Linked DNA regions of Homo sapiens. Changing the gene in region 4 together with the main gene of any one other region gives a genetic interaction. Each region holds a gene or a part of one and is shown on either strand. Other genes may lie near its edges.

The links.
Region 1: changes in TIMM22 (region 4) and MBTPS2 together harm fitness less than expected from each alone (positive genetic interaction), as found in Homo sapiens cells (one large-scale study listed by BioGRID).
Region 2: changes in TIMM22 (region 4) and PITRM1 together harm fitness more than expected from each alone (negative genetic interaction), as found in Homo sapiens cells (one large-scale study listed by BioGRID).
Region 3: changes in TIMM22 (region 4) and OPA1 together harm fitness more than expected from each alone (negative genetic interaction), as found in Homo sapiens cells (one large-scale study listed by BioGRID).

The regions. Positions count from the first base shown.
Region 1 is NC_000023.11:21,846,117-21,849,616, forward strand, and holds part of MBTPS2 (membrane-bound transcription factor site-2 protease), read left to right. Parts: intron 1-3,500. UniProt on the Homo sapiens protein: Zinc metalloprotease that mediates intramembrane proteolysis of proteins such as ATF6, ATF6B, SREBF1/SREBP1 and SREBF2/SREBP2.
Region 2 is NC_000010.11:3,169,686-3,174,757, forward strand, and holds the start of PITRM1 (presequence protease, mitochondrial isoform 2 precursor), read right to left. Parts: upstream 3,098-5,072; 5' UTR 3,095-3,097; coding exon of another isoform or gene 3,088-3,094; coding exon 3,032-3,087; exon of another isoform or gene 2,529-3,031; coding exon of another isoform or gene 2,497-2,528; intron 522-2,496; coding exon 419-521; intron 1-418. UniProt on the Homo sapiens protein: Metalloendopeptidase of the mitochondrial matrix that functions in peptide cleavage and degradation rather than in protein processing. Has an ATP-independent activity. Specifically cleaves peptides in the range of 5 to 65 residues.
Region 3 is NC_000003.12:193,595,882-193,600,175, reverse strand, and holds part of OPA1 (dynamin-like GTPase OPA1, mitochondrial), read right to left. Parts: intron 1-4,294. UniProt on the Homo sapiens protein: Dynamin-related GTPase that is essential for normal mitochondrial morphology by mediating fusion of the mitochondrial inner membranes, regulating cristae morphology and maintaining respiratory chain function.
Region 4 is NC_000017.11:999,692-1,004,528, reverse strand, and holds the end of TIMM22 (mitochondrial import inner membrane translocase subunit Tim22), read right to left. Parts: intron 3,518-4,837; coding exon 3,441-3,517; 3' UTR 858-3,440; downstream 1-857. UniProt on the Homo sapiens protein: Essential core component of the TIM22 complex, a complex that mediates the import and insertion of multi-pass transmembrane proteins into the mitochondrial inner membrane. In the TIM22 complex, it constitutes the voltage-activated and signal-gated channel.

The DNA.
Region 1 (3,500 bases), on a different chromosome or scaffold from region 4:
TTTAGAAGTCATTTGTAGAGAACAATAATCTCTCCTATGGCCATAGCTCTTTTTTAGAGATTAAAAAGATTTAGCAGGTGAGGCCTCAGAAGAAATTATTTCTTTCTTCAGCAAACATTCCCTGCCTTACAGATGAGAAAATCAAGGCACAGACACGTTAAGTCACTTGCCTGTGGTCACAGCTCATAACTAGTAGATCCATCATCACTGATCTTACAGCCTATAGACATTATGCTCTATTATTATTTTATTATCATTATTATTATTATTTGAGACGGAGTTTTGCTCTTGCTGCCCAGGCTGGAGTGCAATGGCGCGATCTCAGCTCACCACAACCTCCGCCTCGCGGGTTCGAGCGATTCTCCTGCCTCAGCCTCCTGAGTAGCTGGGATTACAGGCATGCACCACCACGCCTGGCTAATTTTGTACTTTTAGTAGAGACGGGGTTTCTCCATGTTGATCAGGCTGGTCTTGAACTTCCGACCTCAGATGATCCACCCGCCTTGGCCTCCCAAAGGGCTGGGATTATAGGCATGAGCCACTGCGCTCGGCCTATGCTCTACTTTTAAGAGAGACAAATAATTCTTCAAGGAACTATAAGTAATTTTACTTACAGTTTTAAACCTCTAGGTATATGGTGGGAGGATAGGTGGGACTGGAGGCAAGAGAACAGGATAGTGCAGGATATAAGGTGGGAGATACAGGTAGGGTCTAGGTTATGAAGTTTATGTTTTACCTGTAGGTAGCAAGTCTGTACAAAATGGACCAAAGTCATTAGAGTGAAGATGTGGAGATCATTTAAGAGCAGTAATTTATTTTAGAAGTGATAAAGATATAAAATTAGTGGCAAGGAGAATGAAGGGGATGGATTCAAGTAAGCTTTTGGAGTGGAATTCTCAGACATTGGTGATTAATTAAATGTGAGGCTGGAGGGAGAAGGAAAAGTTTAGGATGACTCTCAGGTTACACAATTGGTTCTTGTTCAACAAGAAAGAGGGTAAGAGAGAAAGAAGCCAGTTGGAGAAAATATGATCACTGGCTTATCTGCCTGCTAGAATTAGAATGGCAAAACGTTGTTTAGAGAAGAAATTATTTCTTCTCTTTGCCACTCAGTTTATTCATAGTACTCACAAAAATGTCAGCTCTATTAGGAGATCCGTGCTTTGGAACCATTAAGAAGTCAGCTGCCCTCTGGAGCCCACCATGCATATTCATGTATAAGTTTAAGAATGTTATGAATCCTGACTTTGACATGAGCTCTTGTAGCTTAAGTAACATACTTTCTGTTTACTCTATAATTCCTGACAGCCTTGTTCAGTATTAATTCTCCAAACCATGGCACTCTGTGTTGTTGAAAGTATTCTGTATTCAGTATTCTGGTACATCTGATACCCTGTGTGAATCATGGCAGAGACAGATGGGCAATCGTGTACTGTTGCCAGCAAATAAGACCTACCATCTGTTGGTATTATCACACATTCAAATTCTTACTTTATCTCACTCACTAGTACATGCAGAAAATAATAAAGAGAAGGAAGAAATATCCTATTGGACCAAGCTTACTGATTTATTTGAAATAAAGGTAAGGTAAGCAGGATATTTTGTGATATAGAGGGTATGTATGACAGTCTTAAGTATGTAAATTTAGAGAGGGGTCAGAGAAAAGTATAATACTGGAAAGATGTCTGACAACTTAGGAATGGAGCAGGTATATAAAAAGGGACATAGAAGTTCTTGAGAAAAGTTGCTCAATAGGGTCCAAGTAAAGAGAATTTCAGATAATGAACATTATAAACATATCCATTTCCTTTGACTCTTTACCTCCACATCTGGGACTCTAGCTTAAGGAAACACTTTCAAATATAGAAAAAATAGTATTCATTAAGCTCTTTAGCCTAACATTATTTATTATTATGAAGAATTAAAAGCAACCAAAATATCTAATTGAGGAATGGTTAAATTATTGGATTGTCATTCAATTAGATATTATGCACACATTAAAAATGATTATAACTAGTTTCGGCCGGGCTCAGTGGCTCACGCCTGTAGTCCCAGCACTTTGGGAGGCCGAGGTGGGTGGATCACCTGAGGTCAGGAGTTCGAGACCAGCCTGGGCAACATGGTGAAACCCCGTCCCTACTAAAAATACAAAATTAGCCGGGTGTAGTGGCGTGTGCCTGTAGTCCCAGCTATTTGGGAGGCTGAAGCAGGAGAACTGCCTGAACCTGGGAGGCGGAGGTTGTAGTGAGCCAAGATCACACCATTGCACTCCAGCCTGGGCAACAAGAGTGAAATCCCAGCACTTTGGGAGGCCAGGGTGGGTGGATCACGAGGTCAGGAGATCGAGACCATCCTGGCTAACATGGTGAAACCCTGTCTTTACTAAAAATACAAAATAAATAAATAAATAAAAATTAGCCGGGCGTGGTGGCGGACGCATGTAGTCCCAGCTACTGTGGAGGCTGAAGCAGGAGAATGAGATGAACCCGGGAGGCGGAGCTTGCAGTGAGCCGAGATCGCGCGACTGCACTCCAGCCTGGGCGACACAGCGAGACTCGTCTCAAAAAAATATATAAATAAAATAAAATAAAACAACAACAACAACAAAAATGATTATAACTAGTTTCTTAACTAGAGAAAGGACACTTGGAATTAATGGAATTTAGAAAATGATTCAAGCAGCATTGTTTGAATCTTCAGTTACTAAAGGAAGCTTTTTAGATGAGATTTCTGTGTCCATAAAAATAAATTCCAGTTGAATTAAAATTAAAACTTGAAACCATAAAAGGCCTTGAAAGAAAAGACCCATGTTATCATTTTTATGAGCACAGAATGAGGAAGACATAGAGCGAATAGTAGAAACCATGAATATTTTTTATGTAACAGTAACACCTTTATTTTTTATTTTTTAAATACTTTATTAGAGCAGTTTTAGATTCACAGCAAAATTAAGAAGGTACGGAGATTTCCCCCCTTACAATGATGAACCGACGTGAATATGTCATTACCACCCATAGTTTACATTAGGGTTCACTCTTGGTGTTGTAGGAAACCATGAATACTAATAGATTTGACTACCTAAATTTTATATATCAAAAACTAAAAACAAAGTAAAATTAAAAGGCAAACAAACTGTGGAATACATTTATGTCATGTATTACAAAGGACCAATGCTGATATTTGAAGTGATCTTACGGATCAGTAAGAAAAAGTTGAATACTTTAGGAGAAAACAAGTCAGGTTATCAGTAGGCAACTCGCAGAAGGACCAAAAAATGGTCAAAAGTACGGGGAAAGTTCAGCTTTACAAATGGTCAAAGAAATGTAAATCACATTGCAGATTTGAATAAAACGAGCTTGCCCAAGGTTATGAAAGGGTCTGCTTTTAGAGTATAATTTGATGACATGTATCAAAATCTTTTAAATTTTGTGTAATAATAGCATTTACTACCCTCTCTGTGAGGCATAACATTAAACATTGGACAAAGATTAGCTCATTTA
Region 2 (5,072 bases), on a different chromosome or scaffold from region 4:
CTGAAACCCGAATGGCTCAGAAAACTGAAAGGTTCTGCGGACGTTTAGAGCAAGCTATTTGATGGCAAAACCTGACTAAACAGATCAGGGCAGTGAGTCTTCATGCTCATGCTCAGTGAAACATCAGGTTTGGCTGCAGAAACGCTAGTGTGTCTGATTACAGAGACCCAGCTGGAAGTGTTACTCTCTAAAATCTCACAAGAACCAGGCTTTGCGGGATTCCAGGAAGGGACTGGGGCTCATTTCACTCACAAGCTCTGTTCAGCCGAGTAGCTGCCACACAGCAGGAGCTGGGCCAGGGCCTTGGGACACAAGGACAAAAACGCTAGTCTCCGCCCTGAAGGGCTCCGTACATAGGCCAGAAGCCGCACCTGCAATGTATGTGGATTTATAAGGAGGTGCCGAGGACGACCCATACCTGGTTTACGGTGAATCCATGGATCTTGTCTCCTAGTTTATACTGCAGAGCCCTCTCACAAGCCCGGTTACTGTTCCATCGCCACGCTCTGTGGTGTGCATGTCTAGATTAAAAGTCATCTAAGTTAGATGAGTTGCAGGAAAAGTATCTGGCTAACATTATTCAGCCACATAGTGAAAATACTCTCATGTAATAAAGATTATTAAAGAAAAATTAAATATTGCATCTTCCAAAGTCTTGCACATTCCAGAAAACTGATTTCTGGTAAGGTCCTTTCCATTTTAATGATCTTTATCTTAACTAAAGCTTCAATGTTGGAAACCTTTTCTTTACACTTGTTCACAAATAACTATAATACAATTACAGTTTAAATTCCCCTTGTTTAAGAGACAACTCTTAAACAAAAGGGCTTCTTTCCTTCACAGAATCCTCAAAAGCCTTCACAGTATACCAAGAAATTCACACTACAGTTAAATCCCATTACATGCCTACCGAATTGCTGAAAACTTAAAAAGCCTAATATTACCGGGAACTCTCATACACTGCTACAGGGAGTACAAAGTGGAATAACTTTGGAAAAGCACTTGGCATTCTTTAGAAAGGCTGAAGAGGCCGGGCGTGGTGGCTTACGTCTGTAATCCCAGCACTTTGGGAGGCCTGGGTGGGCGGATCACCTGAGGTCAGGAGTTCGAGACCAGCCTGGCCAAAAATTAGCCTGATGTGGTGGCAGGTGCCTGTAGTCCCAGATACTTGGGAGGCTGAGGCAGGAGAATCGCTTGAACCCGGGAAGTGGAGGCTGCAGTGGGCCGAGATCACGCCACTGCACTCCAGCCTGGGTGACAGAGCAAGACTGTCGGAAAAAAAAGAAAAAAATGCTGAAGATTGGAAATCCATTCACCTCTTGGTCTCTATCGTCCACACCTTACACTGCGGCCCCAGCACTCACAGACAAAAATGTCAGCACGAACCCTGACAGTCCCAAACTCAACTCACCCGGAGGTGTATCGACAGAGAATGGATAAAGTGCGGACTAATCGTTCAATTAAAAAAAAAAAAAAAAAAAAAAAAAAAAAAAAAAAAACCTTACCAATATAAGGGCCTACAGTGGCATGTAACAAAGATATGGGTCACATAACGTGAAACAAAAGATACACATGATACAGTATTATCCTAAACAGGTATTATTCAAATAGGTAACAAGACATTGTCAGAACGCATAAAAATGGTAAAATATTAAAAAAAAAAAAAGCAAGGACATTTCTGTATGTTATGACCGTGATAATCTAAGAGGGAGGGAGAGAGTTACGAGCAGTTAGGGGAATCTTCAACTTGGTCACAGGGACACTAATTTTCTTTTTTGAGACAGATCTCACTCTGTTGCCCAGGCTGGAGTGCAGCGGTGCAATCTCGACTCACTGCAACCTCCACCTCCCGGGTTCAAGCAATTCTGTCTCAGCCTCCTGAGTGGCTGGGACTACAAGTGCTCACTACTACGCCCAGCTAATTTTTGTATTTTTAGTAGAGACAGTTTCACCATGTCGGCCAGGCTGGTCTTGAACTCCTGACCTCAAGTGGTCTGCCCGCCTTGGCCTCCCAACATGCTGGGATTACAGGTGTGAGCCACCGCGCCCAACCTATTTCTAATAATTATTCTCACCTGAATGAGATGGCTCACACCTGTAACCCCGCAATGCGAGAGGCTGAGGAGGGGGATCAAACCAGCCTGGGAAACAGAGCAAGATCCCTGCTCTTAAAAAACACGTAATTATTATTCTCTCCAATTGTATTATATGTCGTATGGGATTTTCTACATTAATGTATCCCACCGAAATATTTATTTTAAAGATAATATGTACAGGAAGAAAAAACCTATTCAGTCACTGGCAATATTATGAAGATATGCTATAACCAACATTTGCTTACTGATTTAGCAAATTTCAGAATTATGGGACAGAAGCGTTTTAAGAAGTTACTTATCAAGGACATGATAGGAAACTCCTGAGCGGTAAGGCCAGGCCGAACTCATGCCACGGACGCCCCGTGCCTCCCGGCCTGGGCCGGCAGCGCTGAACTATTACCTTATATTAAACACGGGCTCGTGGATTACCATGAACACTAAACTGCTTCGTCATTTTTTTCCCCATAAATTGAGTCATTAAAAAAACAAAACAGTTCAATTCCGGGAGGCGTCAGTTCTCTGAACACAGCGAGACTTTAAGTATGGGCTGTGGGCGCCTCGGGTCTCTTAAGGACTCGGCCTCCCAACAAAAATGAACTAGGAGCAAAGCTGTCAGCGAGAACCGCAAATGCCGACCCCATTTACTACCCCCGTTAAAGCCCACGCTAATGGAGGGCCCCGCCGGGAGCGCCGCGGGCAGGCCCGGCCCCCAGCCCGGGGCATCGCCCCTGGGAGTAGGAAGGAGCTCCGAGGTCCTCCGGCCTCGGAGCCTCGGATGCGGGAGCTCCAGGAAGGGCTCGGGGTGCGGGACGCCCACAGCTTGGGGAGCTGCCAGCCCCGGGCGCAGGGACGAGGACCCCTACGCCTCCGGCCTGCCCTGGACCCTCCCCTCCCGGGTACCAGCGCGCCGAGCGCCTCCCGTCGCAGCGTCTCACCCGCCGCTCAGCCGCCTCAGCACACACAGGCCCTGCCGCCCGCCGCAGCGCCACATTGCGCATGACGAGCACCTGGCTGGCGAGGAACCCCCTCTTAACCCGACGCAGGGCGCGGGGCGGGGCTTGCCGTGACAGCTACCACTCCTATTGGTCAACGCGAACAGCGACGTCCTCTGCGATAGGCTGTAGGTGAAAAGGGTAGGCCTCCACTGCTCTGGGACGGGCGGGAGGGCGGTGCGGACGGAGATGGGCGGGAGGGGCGGGGCCGACGTGCCGAAGGAGGCGGGCAAGGCGAGGGGCGTGGTACGGGTAGAAAGGGGCGGGGCCGTCTTGCCGAAAGGGGCGGGGTTCGGCCAGCAGCAGGATGTGGACAGATGATAGGAGGGGGAAGTGGGCAGGCGAGAAGTGGGGCGTGGCGAGAGGCGTGTGTATGCAGATGAAGTGGGGCCTGGTGAAGGGCGGGGCTGCGCTGGTGAAAAGAGGGGCTCCTGGAATGGCGTGCTGTGTTGGGTGGGGCTGTGCAAGTGATGGGAGGGGCTTAGCGAGGGGTGGCTCTTTGCAGGTGAGGAGTGGAGACCAGTGGGAGAGGGGATTGCAAGTGAGCTGAGCCTTGGGGGCGGGGCTTGCAGGTGACAGGGTGGAGCCTAGTGGGCGGGGATGCAAGTGAGCTGGGCCTTGGGGATGGGGCTTGCAGGCGATGGGGTGGAGCCTGGTGGGGCGGGGCTGCAGGTGAGCTGGGCCTTGGGGGCGGGGCTTGCATGCGAGAGGTGGGTCCTTGTGGGGGCAGGGCTGGCAGAAGTGGGTGGGGCTTGGTGATGGACCGCGGTGTTCAGGTGAGGGTAGTGGCCTGGTTGGGGGCTGCCGGAAGCTGGGCCAGGTGAAACTTGGTAGCCCTCTCTGGCCTTGGTGTGGGCGTTGGTCCTGTTTGTAGGGCTGAGCTGAGCTCCAAAGGCGTTCTGCTGCCCCGCCAGGCCTGAACCTTGGGGTCTGGGGGCTTCTTGGATGAGATCTCAAGGCTGCATGGCAGGTCCCAGGGCCAGGGCCCCACGGTGTCACACGTATCACGGATGGCCGCCAGCGAAGCACAGCACAGCTCCGAGCTGCTGCATGGGAGCCTGTGGCCCCCGCTGCTGCCTCCGCTTTCCTCTTCGTTTCGTGTCTAGGAAGATGCACCTGAGCCCCCTGACATTGCCCAAGTGCCCAAGGGCCCTTCTGGGAACCCCCAGAGAGGCTGAAGGAGGCCCCCGTAGGAGTGGGTGGTTCTGCACTGTGGGCCAGAAGGGGCCCTGGGATTAGCCACGCTTGGAGAGGGTGGGGTAGCCCTTGGAGGAAGTCCGCACCAAGTCTGACCTTCCGGGTTTCTCAGAGCCTCTCTTCCTTCCTCCCTTCACCTTCTCCCTCTTTTTTTCCCCTTGTATCACGAATACAAACAGGCTCAAATCTCCCTCTGTCTCCTAATGGGCTCTGAAAAAAAAAATTAAAAATTAAATGGTAAGTAGATGGCTGCAGTCGGCTTGAACAAGCTAAAACTTTGGAAGCAATGTGGAAGGTAATACTGTGGGAAAAAGTCCCAACGTGTCTACCCTAAACTCTCCATAGGGCAGCCAGTTCTGGGCTGCAGGTAAACACGTACCTCCTTATTGAAGAGCCCAAAGGAACCAGAACACAGGCAATAATAGGAGCGACAGACACAAACACGCTCTGCGCATCACCCGTCTTCTAGGGAGAATTTGGGTGTGTGCACACAAAATATCCGATCTAGGTCTCAATCAATTTAGAAAGTTAATTTTGCCAAGGTTAAGGGCATGCCCATGACACAGCCCCAGGAGGTCCAGATGACATGTGGCCAACATGGTCGTGGCACAACTTTTTTTTTTTTTTTTTTTTAATACCGTGTCTCACTCTGTCGCCCTGGCTGGATTGCAGTGGCGCAATCTTGGCTCAGTGCAACCTCAGCCTCCCGGGCTCAAGCGAGTCTCCTGCTTCAGCTTCCCGAGTAGCTGGGATTACAGGCACCCACCACTATGCCCAGCTAATTTTT
Region 3 (4,294 bases), on a different chromosome or scaffold from region 4:
AAAAGGGGGAATTGTTAAAGCGAACTAAATATGGCCCGAAGAGGACTCCGTACTTTTATATTTGAGTCCTTGTGGACGAACTGTAACCTAGCTCAAATAGGCAGACAAAATCGAAAACCTAACTTAGTAGTATGCATCTGTAATAACAGCTGAGTGTTGGCCAATCCCAGCGGCCATACTTCAACCACTCATAGACTGCTGAGTGTTCAAACTGCGTTCAAATAAGGCAAACGCCGAGCTGTAACCAATCTCACTGTTTCTATGTCTCAATTCTGATTCCTGTAGGTCACTTTACCTTTTCTGTCTATAAATTTGTTCTGACCACGAGGCACCCCTGGAGTCTCTCTGAATCTGCGGTGATTCTGGAGACTGCCCAATTTGTGGATCATTTTTTTTCTTTGCTCAATTAAACTCCATCAAATTTAACTTGTCTGAAGTTTTCTTTTAATTCTATGTTTTGCCCAAGGTAGAATGATTAGCAAATGGTGGAAAAGAGATTGAAACTAGGGTCAGCCAGACAGTAAATCTCAAATTATTTCCACAAGCGACACTTGTGGGCAAGAGTGTGGGAAGCAGCAGATGCAGAAATACATGTGGCCCCAGATAAGAAGCTAAGGTGACATTTTGGACTCCCTGCCACTTCCTCCAGAGCCCCAGGATGATACTGCACCTTGCTGTGGTTCAAAACTCCATAGGATGAAGTGTGATGGAGGTTTAATAAATAAAACAAAAAAAGAAACCAAAAAGAAAACCAAAAAAGTACAAAAAAAAAAAAGAATAAAAAAGAGAAAGAAGGGTGCAGAGCTGAGACAATGAAAGGGCAAGAGACCCAAGGAGCTGGCATAGAAGGCTCATAGGAGGAGTAAAACTGGACTGAATATCCAATTGAAGAGTCACTGAATATAAGGCTGAGGCTTAACTTTTTTTCGTAGGCAATGGGGAACTACAGAGTTCCTGAGTAGAATAAGACTAATGAAACATTAATTTAAAGAAAATAGTAAAGATAATGTTAGGTCAAAGTAAATCAGAAGGGGAACAAAAAGGTGATCTTATTTCAGTTACCCAGATGTAAGGGGAAGAGCCTAAAGTTAGGTGGCAGCAATGAGAAAGGAAAGGGAAAGGCAGATACTCGCCAGACTAGGCACAGGAGGAAGGACAAAGGAAAGTCACCAATCACCACAAGGTTTTATCCAGCGTGACCCATGTTATCACTTACAGAGAGGGATATCAACCAGAGAAAGAGCTCATGGTTCCACAACGTTTAGCTCACCCTTCTTTCAACTACATCCTTACATCCATTTAGTCTATTGAGTCAGAAGAACTCTGGTTCCAATCACATTTCCACTGCTTACTAGCTGTGCAGTTAGGGCAAATTATGAATTTTCTAAAGCCTTAGTTTCTTAATCGGTTAAAATGGCATAATAGCTGTATTAGAGAGTCGCCATCAATAATCAATAATCTGATATTTCTTTCTTCTCCTTACCTATTCACATCCTCCTTATCTATTCACCCACTTACCACCTTAGATTATGCGGTTCATCGTTTCAATAACTCTTTTGCAAACATTCTAAACTCCCTCGTCCTCTGACTTTTCTGTTTGACTTGTCCAACAAAATACAAACCCTACATGAGCCTTATTGTTTTTCTCTCTGCCTGTACCCAGGGAAATAAAGCACTACTGGAGAAAATCACACCCAACTGGAAGCACATCTCAACAGGGCCCTCAAAACTACTTAACAATCCTACTTCATCTCTCTTAGCAATTCATTCTTCCACTCTCTGCTAGAAGAGCTCTTCTAATCTCCCCTTATCTCTCTTGACCTCCCCAACTCTCAGTAGATGACCTTGCCCTCTACTTCACAGAGAATGGAAGCTATTAGAATGACACATGTTCAACTTCCTCATACAAAAACTGTTCACCTACTGTATCTCCACCAATCCTCTTCTTCCTCATGTAAAATTAAGCGATCTTTCTCCCATTAAAGGTGAATCACTGTTTGGAATTCTCTTTCCTCCTGCCCTTTGAGGAATCTAAGTCAAATCTCTCCTCCCATATTTATTTTTTATTTTTGAGACAGGGTATTTATTTATTTTTGAGACGAAGTCTTGCTCTGTTGCCCAACGTGGAGTGCAATGGCATTATCAGGGCTCACTGCAGCCCCACGTATCTGGGCTCAAGTGTGATCCTCCTGCCTCAGCTTCATAAATAGCTGGGACTAGAGGTGTGTGCCAGCATGCCCAGTTAATTTTTTTTGAATTTTAGTAGAGACAAGGTCTTGCTATGTTGCCTAGGCTGGTCTCAAACTCCTGAGCTCAAGCGACCCTCCCTTTCAAAGTGTTGGGATTACAGGTGTAAGCCACTGCACCTGGCTATGTCTCATCTTAAAAGGGGGAAAAAAAGTACCCCATTTCCCTGCTCTAGCTATTTTATTAAAATAAAAGCCAAACCATCCTGATTTCCATTTCTTTTTTTTTTTTTTTTTTTGAAACGGAGTCTTGCTCTGTCACCCAGGTTGGAGTGCAGTGGCTCGATCTCTGCTCACTGCAACCTCCGCCTCTGGGGCTCAAGCGATTCTCCTGCCTCAGCCTCCTGAGTAGCTGGGATTACAGGGACCTGCCACCACACCTGGCTACTTTTTGTATTTTTAGTAGAGACAGGGTTTCACCATGTTGGCCAGGCTGGTCTCGAACTCCTAACCTCAGGTGATCCGCCCACCTCGGCCTCCCAAAGTGCTGGGATTACAGGAGTGAGCCACTGTGCCCAGCCTGATTTCCGTTTCTATCACTTCAGCGAAACAGCTCTTACGGAGGGCACCATAGGCTTCCAATGGCCATTTTGCTCAATTCTGGTTTTATCTGACCTCTCAGCAATACCTGACAATGTTGACACCTCCTCATTGTTGAAAATTCCTCTCCCCTGGGCAGTCTCTAGCTTTACCTCTATCTCACTGGCCACTCATTTTCAGTATCCTCAACTACCCTTGGAAATGTTGGGAACTCATCAAGGCTTAGACCTAACCTACTTCTCACTCTCCCTAGGCAATCTCATCTACACCCATTTCCTCCATTACCATCCACATACCCATGTTTCTCAAAATTATGTCTAATACAGTTAAGTTCCCCCTTTTGGTCAGCCCCTCAATTTAGAGAGATTAACCAAAACTTTAGGCGTTGACACCACTCTCTGTCACCATCATAAAGACTTATTTGATCTCAGTGTGGAACTCACAAGTCGTCTTTAGTTTCAGTACGGAGTCTCACACGTCTTCTTTGGTGTTAATAGGGAATTCACAAGCCGCAGCCTGTACCAGTTAAATGATTCTTTATGTTCTTGCTGATCCACTTGGAGCGAGACCATTCAACTGTCAACGTACAGCTGCATACAAAACATTTAAGACTTGAGAGTATACAGAGCGCCAAGGGGACTATTATTGCGACTATTAAGAGGATACCATCAAAATGCTAAGGCGTACTCCTTGTTGTTATTCAAAAACAGCAATCAAAGAACAATAGAAAGTGTACAGAATTAAACATGTCTTTAAGAGTTTTCTTAAAAGTTCATGGAAATGAAAAGTTGCAATGCTCAGTGCTAGGTGTCCTCTAAAAGGAAAAATAAAAATAAAAAAATTAAGTTGCCGCCAAATGCAGTGGCGCACGCCTGTAATCCTGGCATTTTGGGAGGCCAAGGTGAGAGGATTACCTGAGCCCAGGAGTTCGAGGCCAGCCTGGACAACACGCCAAGATCCTGTGTGAAAGAAAAGAAAAGAAAAGAAAAGAAAAGAACAGAAAAGAAAAGAAAAGAAAAGAAAATTAAGAAAAGAAAAGAAAAGAAAAGAAAAGGAAAGGAAAGGAAAGGAAAGGAAAGGAAAAGAAAAGAAAAGTTGCGATGGCCAATATTAAAAAAATCAACAGTAAAACCATGAAATGAATTAAGGAAATTCCCCAGGACATAAAATGCAAAAAAAAAAAAAAAAAAAAGGTGAAAAACATAAGAGGAAAGTTAAGTGATGCAGAGCTGTGGTAATGTGGTATCCAAAGGGAGTGGGAGGATGGGGGCGGAATGCATCCCGTGGGATGAACAAAAGGATCTACTGGGATTCAGGAAGAAAGTACTGAAGCTTCTAGATGCAGTATGTTTTGTATCTTATCCTTTAAGATTATGTTAGGGTTGACTTACAATGTAAATAATTAGTACAGATACATATATAATTTAAAAATAAAAAAGTGTGCATATATACATAGGGTATATGTATGCTTTTCCTTTTAACAGACGACGAGTACAAATCTTACTTTG
Region 4 (4,837 bases):
CAGTTACAGCTCCCCGGCTCTTCTGTGTGGCAGAGCGTCGTTTCCGGGCCCTCAGGGCTGGGGAGCTCAGTTCCCATTGCTTGTGCTCAGGGCTGAGTCTTAAAGAAGGGTTTGCCGGCCCTAACGCTGCAGCGCGTGCGCGGTGAGAGGCCCTTTTTGAGCCTGTTTACTCCTGTGGCCTTGGGCAGAACAGTAAATACTCTGTGCACGGAGGAAAGACATGCCCAAGAGGAAGGAAGTACTGACCATCGGCTGCCTGTGAGCAGCTTAGCAAGGAGCCCTTGCTCCCTGGGAAAGGCGGTGAACTTGAGTCTAAAGATGCAGTGCCTGGCCCTTCCTAAGGTCCCTGCCTGGCATCCGAGTGTCGGTGTGTGGCACAGAAGGCTCCTGCTTGCTTCCAAAGTGATGGACAGGAAGGGGCAGAGTGAGTCACGGCCCAGACTGGGCACCTTCGCGTCTCAGCCTCAGGGAGCCCCACAGCCCCAAGCTCGCTGAGGCAACGTGAGAACAGGCTATGGGAAGGCTGCAAAGGCTGAGAAATGCAAAGGCTCATATTTATAAATCCCACCCCCAGAGTGGGGAGGGTCAGGTGCCAGACCTGGACTAAACTGCACCAAGGAAACACCCAGCAGGGTCTCCTGTGAGCCGGGGACCATGCAGCCCGAAACCTCCAGTCACTGCGCCCGGCAGGAGTCAGGAGCCAGGGACTGTGCAGCCTGGAACCTCCAGTCACTGTGCCCAGCAGGGTGGGCTGTGCCCAGCAGGAGTCAGGCTAAGAAACGCCAGGTCTGCCTGTTCTTGCTGGGCAATGGCTGATGGCTGCCAGTTTCTGCTGATACACAGGTAGGATGGGACCCTTCATGAATATCTGACTTTAATAAGTTGGTAAGGATATATTTTTTTGTCTATGTTCTGTTTCAACTTATGTAGATTATTATAAATTGATGTAAACCACGTGAGAGGAAAATGTTAATAAAAAATGCAAAGCCCCATCATTTGCACAAAACTCAGCCCTGTGGTGTGGATGTTTGTGTTCGCGGTGGTCCAGGGAAGCCACCAATGTAAATATTTAACTCTTCCAGCTGCATCCAGATGTGAGTTTCCAGGAATCTGTTTACCTAGTTCACTCCCCTTGAGCCTCCCTGTGGCCCACGGGGGCTGGGGCAGAGCTGCGGGGAGGTGGGCTGGAGCCCTCTCCTTGCTCTTCACAAAGGCCTCCGGATCAGCCAGCATCCAGGCTGCTTCTGGCTCACCTTTGCCATGTGCTGCTACAGTACAAATGTCCCACCTGGCCATCGGTGTGCCTTGAAAGTGGCATGAAGTTGTCCACTGAACAGGAAGCGTCTTCTTTTATGTAAACGCTTCTCTACGCTTTCCTTCAAAGTGGCATATCTTTGAGGCAGCCTTTTGGTCTAATCTGCTTGTCAGAGAAGCTGGGTCTCCGAGGGCCCACCCTCCCTTTGAGAGAGTCAGTGGCGTGAATATTGGCTCCCACCAGCCGAAGCAACTGGACACTGAGTTTATTCTGAAGATCAGGAACAGATGTCTCTGAAAATTGCTGTTTGGTTTATGAGCTCATACTGGCTCCCCAGCCATCGAAAACAGGAAACTATTCATCTCTCGAGTGAATAGGCAGCGTGGACAATGCCTCGCTTACTGAACCGATGGGTACTGACAGCCCTGGCGCTCATCTTTTCCAAGGCTGTTGTGAGGGCAGCATCTCTTGTATTTGGTCCCACGTGCTAGACTGAAAGATGGAAGATCCCAGGCATCCTAGGACTTTGACAGGTACCAGGTGGGAATGTCTGCCCTTGCTTCAGAGTGCTTGTAGGTGTCCTATATTTAGGGACAGCAGAGGAAACAATTTGTTCTGAGCTCTAGGGAACGCTCCAACTGGCCTAGCAGTGATGAAGCCTCCTAGCTGTGAGACTGGGAGGGGCGTTATATAGAATTCACTGTAAAAGGACATGAGCCCTGAGCAGGAACTCACATTCATTCCAAGAAAATGGCAAACATGACCCAAGGAAGGTGTTACCAGCTGGGTTTGACATCATCACTCATGTACAAACACTCGGGCCTCCAGGCCATGTACACTGAGTGTGAACGCTGGTTAAGAGTGTGTGGGCCAGAAGACAGGGCAGATGAGGAAGAAGGCAAAAAAGGAAAGGATAGAGGAATTACCGTATTATAGGAAAAAGGAGACTCATCACCACTGGCTGAAGGTGCCCAGCACTGTGTGGCCCCCACCAAGCGACCTGCCTGTGCCCCACCCAAGAGCAAAGGCCTGACTCCAGCAGTGTCATCCCCCCACAGAGCACCAGGGTAAAGCAGCACCAGTGCTGAAGCCCAACTGTAGACGGATTTTTTTTTTTTTTTTTTTAATATCCATGGCACACAACTAGGCCAAGAAAAATACCACAAGGTCAAGTCGAAAACACGACATGTTAAAACACTTCCTTGACCCTGGAGAACGAGGATGGTGGTGAACAGCCCCTCAGCGACGTCTGATCTTGGCCAGTAGCTGCTGTGACCGAGTCACCAAGATGACCACAGCAGGACCCTTCACATGTGGCCTCAAGCTCGGCCAGGTCCAGCAGTCACGTCGTGAAGGCAGTGTGTGCCTCTCGGCCGGCACAGGAGGGGCCCATCGAGTTCATGGATGGGATTTCACTGCATCCCAGGAAAAGGCTGGGCTGGGCTTCTTGAGGCAGGCCCTGGCAGATGTAATGAGCTTGGTGAGGATGACACAGTCCTCTAACAACCCTGCCTCAGCGCCCCATCCCCCGCTTCCCTGGGAGCTTTCTCATTCTTTCCCTTCAGATGTTATCTTTGGGCCACCCGGCACTATTTTTGGAATAGGGAATTTGAAAATAAAATACAAATAAACCAACCTTTTGAACTGTAAGGTGTGTGGCGGTGGGGGAGGGGAGTGTATTTTTAAAAAAAAAACAAGGATGACAGAACACAAAACAAGTGAGATAATTGGTTGGACGGCATCAGTCCGCCTTGCCCTGCCCTGGTATTCGAGACGGATAGTTGCATGGAGTTCCAAGGTAGAACAGCTTCCTGAGTGCCTGCAGAGACACTGTCACCTCTGTGCCCACAACACCAAACAACCTAGAGGGCCAGCTGTGGTCAGGCCTGAAGCTTTGTGGAGCTGAATTCCTATATGTCAACATCCTGTCTCCCGATCTGCTGTGAGAGAATCTGGCACGGGACGTCCTCTGTGAAGGCTGGCTGGAGTCCAGGAGCAGCAAAGTGTGGCTACCCCAAAGGCTGGAGGCAGAGAAGCCAGGCAGCTCCCTCAGAATACCAACGACATGAGGGAAAATGAATGTCTTCAGGCCCTGAAGCAAGGCCCTGGTGTGGTACAGAAACTGTCCTCCAGAGAGCAGCCCGGATCCGGGGCTGGCATCATCCTTCCCTGCAGGCAATTACTCTCACCGGAGGTAATAATCAATCGCAGCAGAGAAAGCAGCAAAACCTCCACAACCAATGGCCCCAGCCTTTAAGCCAGCTGTCAAACAAACAGAAAGAACATGACCTGTGGTGACAGCTGCTGGGTCACGAGGCACTCACGGAAAGTTGGCACACCCTCAGTGTCATGAAATGAGCTTAAGCACTGTAAGTCATTCAAACGATCATAGCTCTGGAAGACATCAATGAAGCAGTGTATATGATCTAATCCAGTGCGCTTTATCTAACTACATTTGTTTAGCTTTTCTCCTTCAAAGGGTATTTCTAGTCTTAGGGAAATAGCCCCTCGCAGGCAGGAAACTGGTTGAGAGAAGCAGCCCTCGGAATCAAATGAAAGCATATGGCCTTGACCCTGATTTGTTTATGGAATACATTCCTGGGAAGGTGATCAAAGCAGTACTGGAGACAGCAGAGCTTCTCAAAGAGGCCCTGGTGAAGCTGAACAATGGGACGACCGGCGGAGAAGTCAGTCCGTCATCATAAATGGTGCTTGAGGAGCAAAACCAGGTTTCATGACAGCAAATCATCCTGTCTCTCAGAAGATGAGAAAACTGGCTTTTTGCTCTGGGTAAGTTAGGGCATGACAGATGGAAAGTGGCCCAGTGATAAAACACTGCTGCTTCTAGGAAAGTCAAGTCACCAAGGCCCTCCACCACGCTCTGAATGGACATGCCAACGGGGAGAAGAGGCAGCAAATTGGTTTTCTTTTTTTTTTTTTTTTTGCAGCTGATAATCTAATATTTCTAGAATATCTGTACTTAGCATTCAATGGGTAGAAATCAGAATCCCCAAGGGCAGAAAGATATTACCATTATAATTTATATCTAAAATTAAAAGACAATTGTCTAGAATTACTGAGAAAAATGTTGGCCACACGTGGTGGCTCATGCCTGTAATCCCAGCACTTTGGGAGGCTGAGGCAGGCAGATCACGAGGTCAGGAGTTCGAGACCAGGTGAAATTGATCTCTACTAAAAAAATAAAAATTAGCTGAGCATGGTGGCGGGTGCCTGTAATCCCAGCTACCTGGGAAGCTGAGGCAGGGGAATCGCTTGAACCCAGGAGGTGGAGGTTGCAGTGAGCTGACATCGTGCCACTGCACTCCAGCCTGGGCGACAGAGTGAGATTCGGTCTCTTTAAAAAAAAAAAAGTTGTTACAACGGACGGGGGTGCTACTTGCATCTCGTGGGTAGAGGCCAGGGATACTGCTCAACGTCTTAGAATGCACAAAACAGACCCAATCCCGACAAAGATTCGTCTGGTCGAAATGTCAGTAGTGCCAACGATGGGAAACCCTCATCTAGATCCTACAAGTTTCCAAAACCGAGTTACCACAGAAACAAACATGATTTATTTGTCAG